Homo sapiens: one gene and its partner. The protein of the gene in region 1 interacts with the protein of each later gene in a pairwise test. Each region holds a gene or a part of one and is shown on either strand. Other genes may lie near its edges.

Region 1 (3,500 bases):
GTCATGATTTGTAGCATGTACCAGTTTCTGTGGTGTAAATACACTTGTCGTGGCTGATCTCAAGCTACTGACGTGATGTCCTCGAACGTGGACTTGGGAAGAAGATATACTGTAGCCACCATCTTTAGGGTGTTTCTACCACATGGATACAATAGACGTAAGAGCACAGATAATCGTAAAACAGAGAAAAATAAGTAGGAAGTGACGAATTTCAAGTATTTATTACCTCTGTTGAATATAATTTATTGAACTGTAAGCTTATATATAATTCAACTTTAAAAAATGGCCTGAGTTGAACAACCAGCTCACCACAATTCTATAATCTAGGAGTTGGCTCTCGTGGGTCGGCACAGGTCAGCTAGGGTGCCTGGTCCTGGTGGAGGGCAGGAGGCCCCCTTCCCCTGGCCTCCCTAGCCAGTCCCCACACACAGCCCCAGTGGCCTCCACAGCTCCACCCTCCTTTCATGGCCGTTCTTTTTCTTAGATGCCAAAAGCAGAAACTCCCCGAGATCGAACCTGAAATTCCGCTTTGACAAGCTCAGCCATGCCAGCTCTGGTGCGGTAAGGATGCGCCTCCCACACCCCACACTCCACTTTCTGCAGAGGCCCAGCCTTCCTTCCTGAGGCCAGAGGAAGAGGGTTCAGACATCCCAGAGGGGGCTCCCCGAAGGAGGCAGGGGAAGCTCTGGGGACGTCTGGCTCCAGCAGGTGCAGGCCGTGTCTCCGGGTTCCAGCCACCTTTGCCACAACTCCCAAGGTGGAGCTACACCTCTGGACACGGCCAGGCCCAGATGTGAGGTGGGAGGTGCTGGTTCCTGGGTCCCCCAGTCCCTTCCTGAGCTCTCCAGACTATCGAGAGCTCCAGGCCCAGTTGTGAGGTGGGAAGGGCTGGTTCCTGGGTCCCCCAGTCCCTTCCTGAGCTCACCAGACTATCGAGAGCTCCAGGTCCAGATGTGAGGTGGAAGGTGCTGGTTCCTGGGTCCCCCAGTCCCTTCCTGAGCTCTCCAGACTATCGAGAGCTCCAGGTCCAGATGTGAGGTGGAAGGTGCTGGTTCCTGGGTCCCCCAGTCCCTTTCTGAGCTCGCCAGACTATGGAGAACTCCAGGTCCAGATGTGAGGTGGGAAGGGCTGGTTCCTGGGTCCCGAATCCCTTCCTGAGCTCACCAGACTATCAAGAGCTCCAGGTCCAGATGTGAGGTGAGAAAGGCTGGTTCCTGGGTCCCCCAGTCCCTTTCTGAGCTCGCCAGACTATCGAGAACTCCAGGTCCAGATGTGAGGTGGGAAGGGCTGGTTCCTGGGTCCCGAATCCCTTCCTGAGCTCACCAGACTATCGAGAGCTCCAGGTCCAGATGTGAGGTGGGAAGGGCTGGTTCCTGGGTCCCCCAGTCCCTTCCTGAGCTCTCCAGACTATCGAGAGCTCCAGGTCCAGATGTGATGTGGGAAGGGCTGGTTCCTGGGTCCCGAATCCCTTCCTGAGCTCACCAGACTATCGAGAGCTCCAGGTCCAGATGTGAGGTGGAAGGTGCTGGTTCCTGGGTCCCCCAGTCCCTTCCTGAGCTCTCCAGACTATCGAGAGCTCCAGGCCCAGTTGTGAGGTGGGAAGGGCTGGTTCTTGGGTCCCGAATCCCTTCCTGAGCTCTTCAGACTATCGAGAGCTCCAGGTCCAGATGTGAGGTGGGAAGGGCTGGTTCCTGGGTCCCGAATCCCTTCCTGAGCTCTCCAGACTATCGAGAGCTCCAGGTCCAGATGTGAGGTGGGAAGGGCTGGTTCCCGGGTCCCCCAGTCCCTTTCTGAGCTCGCCAGACTATCGAGAACTCCAGGTCCAGATGTGAGGTGGGAAGTGCTTGTTCCTGGGGTCCTGAATCCCTTCCTGAGCTCACCAGACTGTTGAGAGCTGAGTGCACAGAGCCGCCGTGGAAGGGACCTGTGCTGTCTGGTTATTTAAACTCCTGTATGGATTTTTGTTGAAACAGGGTCACTAATGTGAAAGTGGAGTCCTTCGCCTGTCCAAGGTGGGTTGAGTGAATGTCCTGCTGTGGCCGTGAGGGGGGACGTGTGTTTCTTTTAGATCAGGGAACTAGAGGCCTTGTAACCTCAGAATGGCCGGAGAGATGCCGCCAGCTGGGGATGTCCAAAGAGTCTCCTACTCGCCCCTGAAGACCTGCAATGGGGAAGGAGGGGCAGATGGCCTGTGTGCGGATGGGAAGGGGGTTCCCAGTGACACTGGACTAGACGTACTAGTTAGGCCTCCCTTCCACCGATGGGGTCTGGTTCCCGCAGGCAGAAGGGGAGTCGCCCAAGCCCGCTTCTGACCCAGGAGGGAGGAGTTCCTGAGGGCTCCCTTGCTCCCCTGCCCTCAGGCAGCTGTTCCCTCCTTGTGTCTTTGGCGGAGGCCCTGGGCTGAGGTGTGTTCTCCCTCCCTGTCGGGAGTCAGCACTGTGAGGGACCACCCCAGGAGGCCTCTTCCCCTGCCTGCTTTGAGGGGGCACGTGGTTTGAGCAGAGTGGCCGTGGGTCCAGCTCGCCCCCATCAAGGCCTGGATTTCTGCTGGGGAAGTCACCAGAGACCCATCTGAGCTCCCAGCCCTCTCCCCACATGGGGCTTCAGGGGTCAGAGTCACAGCTGGAGCCAAGAGGAGGGGTACAACCGAACCCACTCTGTGTTCAACCTGATTTATGAAAAAGCAGAAGACAAATGGGCATATGGACCTTCACCCCCGGCTCCCATCACGCACTCTGGACGCCACTGCCCACCAAAGCCGTGGCTATGCGCAGCTTCTCGGGCCACGCAAGGTGGGGCACCCTTACATCAGGTGCCCTCCTGCTCCTGAGTGTATCCAGTGAGCTGTAGCCATGGGCAGGCGTGTTCCCCACCCCTTGCTCCCGACGTCCGCGTCGTCCCCTCCTTCCTGTACGGAATGTTCGCTCATCGCCGCCTCCTCCTTGTCTCCTCAGGGAATCCCCTCTTCTGTCCTGGAAAAGGCTCCTGTACCAGCAGTTTGGGAGTGCCGTCCACGACCCTGACAGTCCCAGCCCTGCTGCCCCATGGCCACGTGCCCACAGATGTGCTGTTGGTCCAGGTGTCCCAGTCTGGCCACAGCCCTGCCTCCGCCCTCACCTACATGCCCTCCCAGCCCCTCCCATCTCTGGACGAGGCCTCCTTCCTCAGGTTCCTCCTGCTCCTGACCTCCCAGTGTGATGTCCGGGTCCTTTATCATCCTATTCATCCTGGAGAGGAAAAGTGTCGGGCAAAGGGGGATCTGGGGGGAGCTCAGCAGTGACTGGGGAGCTGGTCTGCCTCAGAGACAGAGTAGGGGGTGGGAGCAGAGCCTCGGTGAGGGTCTTGGCCACAGGGCAGTGCCTTCCTGAACGTGGCAGGCTTTACTACCAGGAACGCACTCGGTGGTGGAGGCCCCATGTTCCCAGGAGCCAAGATTCGTAGCATCCTTGAGGCCATCCTGATAAAATTCGGCGCTATTGCCCCCGTAGCTCTGGAGCTCT
Region 2 (3,500 bases), on another chromosome or scaffold:
AGTGCTTCTAGGACGTAGTGGGGAGGGATAAGGAAAAAAATAAGTAGATTATTGGGGATAGTGAATGATAAATCTATTACTACCGAGATTTGAGTTATCTTTTCGATTCACAGAGTACTCAGGGAGTCTCTCAGGTTGCTCCTGCAGAGCCAGTTGCAGTAGCACAGACCCAAGCTACCCAGCCGACCACTTTGGCTTCCTCTGTAGACAGGTACGTAAAACTAGAATTCTCCTTCCTTGACTGGTAAATAAGACGGTATGAAACGCCAAACTGTCAGACCTTTAAATCTCATATTATAAACTGCACTTTTTTTTCTTTTTAAATTTCAAAGTGCACATTCAGATGTTGCTTCAGGTATGAGTGATGGCAATGAGAACGTCCCATCTTCCAGTGGAAGGCATGAAGGAAGAACTACAAAACGGCATTACCGAAAATCTGTAAGGAGTCGCTCTCGACATGAAAAAACTTCACGCCCAAAATTAAGAATTTTGAATGTAAGTATTCCTAATTTGTGAGTTTCATGTTGTTAAAGGAATTTGACACTGAAAAAGATTTTAGAGGTCATCAAATCCAAACCACTCACTTCATAAAATAAAGATAACTATCTGTGTGTGACAGATAATTTTTTTTTTTTTTAGACGGAGTCTCGCTCTGTCGCCCAGGCTGGAGTGCAGTGGCATGATCTCTTCTCACTGTGATTGCAGTGCCTCCTGGGTTCAAGCGATTCTCCTGCCTCAGCCTCCCAAGTAGCTGGGACTACAGACACGTGCCACCACGCACGGCTAGTTTTTGTATTTTTAGTAGAGACAGGGTTTCACCATATTGGTCAGGCTGGTTTCAAACTCCTGACCTCAGGTGACTCACCTGCCTCAGCCTCCCAAACCACTGGGATTACAGGCACCCAGCCAGATAATTTATATAGTACTCTTCTCATTTCATGCCCACAGTCTCTTTGACTTAAATATCACATTTTTAGAAAAATGAAAAGGTAGTTCATAAAGCTATGATAGGGCCAGCAGTTAATATCATTTAAATATTTCTTAAGGCTTAGATGAATTGATGAATGTATAGGATCTTATAATTAGCCAAATGATATTCTTACATTCCATATTTCTATGATAAAGCACTACTTATCTTTTAGAAAAAGAATAGAGAGTTTTAGTAAGTAGCTCAAAGGCTAACGTCTTCTCAAAGATTTTTCTTGCTACCAGTTTAAGAGACAAAGTACTAGTGCTCCAAGGAACAGCGATAACACTATGCTTCCTTAGACATAAAGTCAAGTGCTAATCTGCATTGCTTTTCTGAAATTCAGTAATAAAGCTGAATATGGTCTTTGGAGATGATGTACCTTTTTTCTTTTTAGGTTTCAAATAAAGGAGACCGAGTAGTAGAATGTCAATTAGAGACTCATAATAGGAAAATGGTTACATTCAAATTTGACCTAGATGGTGACAACCCCGAGGAGATAGCAACAATTATGGTACGTCTGCATTTGGAGTTCTAGGTTTTTCCTTAGTACTTGATCTTAATAGCCATTGCTCTAGGCAAATATGCCATATTTTATAATCCATGTTTTTTTAAAGTTATGCATTTACTTCAATGTGAATAAAACTATCACACCCAACCTGTGATTTAGTGATGTTTTTGTCTAGGCTATGTCTAACTAGATATTGAAGTTCTTAAAAAGAGAAGAGCTAACTTGAGTACAAAATAAATAAAAATATAGGTAAGTATGCAGATAGGACAGAAGTCATAAAAGTGACATAAAGTTTGAGAAATGACACTAATTAGACTGACATCACATTTCTTTTACAGGTGAACAATGACTTTATTCTAGCAATAGAGAGAGAGTCGTTTGTGGATCAAGTGCGAGAAATTATTGAAAAAGCTGATGAAATGCTCAGTGAGGATGTCAGTGTGGAACCAGAGGGTGATCAGGGATTGGAGAGTCTACAAGGAAAGGATGACTATGGCTTTTCAGGTTCTCAGGTAGGTTCACCACTCCCATAGTGAAACTTTGTTGATTTAAAATATTTTCATAGTTCTAAATTTGCTATGCAAAATGTCCAGTGATATCACCTGACACCCATGACCGACAACAAACTTTTATGTTCTCTTCACATGTGGCAGTTTGCTTTGCCTAGTCATTGAGATTGCATTTGAGAATGTATTTAATCACTTTTGTTTGTTGTAGAAATTGGAAGGAGAGTTCAAACAACCAATTCCTGCGTCTTCCATGCCACAGCAAATAGGTGAATTTATTTTCTTTCCTTGTTTTTACCTTTGACTTAAGAAGCCATTAGCCGAGGGTGGTGGCAGGCTTCTGTAGTCCCAGCTACTCAGGAGGCCGAGGCACGAGAATCGCTTGAACCCAGGAGGCGGAGGTTGCAGTGAGCTGAGATCGCGCCACTGCACTCCAGCCTGGGTGAGAGAATGAGACCGTGCCTCAAAAAAAGCAGTTGTATGTGCCAATAATGAAGTCTAACAATATTTATAATAATAATGCTATTAAGTTACGTTTGTTTGTTTGTTTTTGACCAGGCATTCCTACCAGTTCTTTAACTCAAGTTGTTCATTCTGCGGGAAGGCGGTTTATAGTGAGTCCTGTGCCAGAAAGCCGATTACGAGAATCAAAAGTTTTCCCCAGTGAAATAACAGATACAGGTAAGGGATTGATTCTGCCACATTGTTATGTAAATTCTACAGTGCCTCTGCTATGTTGAAAGCTTAATCATAAAGCAGTAATTTATGATGACACAGATAATAAAAAAGAATAGAAAACTGAAGTTATAACCAACAGATAAACATATGGGAGAGGGAAATAGATGAAGAATACAGAGAATTACAGAAAAAGCCAAGAAGCACGGCCATACCAAGATATAGTCTGTATAATAGATATTGTAGTATGTGTTTATTTCTGCACTTAGTACTGTTGTCTATGTTTTAAGATTACTCCATATTTTTTATCAAAAACAGATATTTATAGGAGCTGACTTAGGCTAGCAGACAATCTTTTGAATCCATCCTTTTAAAATCAGCTGATTCTTATCTTTTTGTATTCCTTTGCAGTTGCTGCCTCTACAGCTCAGAGCCCTGGAATGAACTTGTCTCACTCTGCATCATCCCTTAGTCTACAACAGGCCTTTTCTGAACTTAGACGTGCCCAAATGACAGAAGGACCCAACACAGCACCTCCAAACTTTAGTCATACAGGACCAACATTTCCAGTAGTACCTCCTTTCTTAAGTAGCATTGCTGGAGTCCCAACCACAGCAGCAGCCACAGCACCAGTCCCTGCAACAAGCAGCCCTCCTAATGACATTTCCACATCAGTAATTCAGTCTGAGGTTACAGTGCCCACTGAAGAGGGGATTGCTGGAGTTGCCACCAGCACAGGTGTGGTAACTTCAGGTGGTCTCCCCATACCACCTGTGTCTGAATCACCAGTACTTTCCAGCGTAGTTTCAAGTATCACAATACCTGCAGTTGTCTCAATATC

Evidence for each region. Proteins that work in one complex are often made in the same cells at the same time.
Region 2: the proteins of RAP1GAP2 (region 1) and WNK1 interact in a two-hybrid assay, tested with the Homo sapiens proteins (one large-scale study listed by IntAct).

The regions. Positions count from the first base shown.
Region 1 is NC_000017.11:3,030,438-3,033,937, forward strand, and holds part of RAP1GAP2 (rap1 GTPase-activating protein 2), read left to right. Parts: intron 1-484; coding exon 485-561; intron 562-1,973; coding exon 1,974-1,982; 3' UTR 1,983-2,012; intron 2,013-2,954; 3' UTR 2,955-3,500. UniProt on the Homo sapiens protein: GTPase activator for the nuclear Ras-related regulatory protein RAP-1A (KREV-1), converting it to the putatively inactive GDP-bound state.
Region 2 is NC_000012.12:881,579-885,078, forward strand, and holds part of WNK1 (serine/threonine-protein kinase WNK1), read left to right. Parts: intron 1-113; coding exon 114-211; intron 212-332; coding exon 333-495; intron 496-1,364; coding exon 1,365-1,481; intron 1,482-1,816; coding exon 1,817-1,990; intron 1,991-2,195; coding exon 2,196-2,253; intron 2,254-2,542; coding exon 2,543-2,665; intron 2,666-3,070; coding exon 3,071-3,500. UniProt on the Homo sapiens protein: Serine/threonine-protein kinase component of the WNK1-SPAK/OSR1 kinase cascade, which acts as a key regulator of blood pressure and regulatory volume increase by promoting ion influx.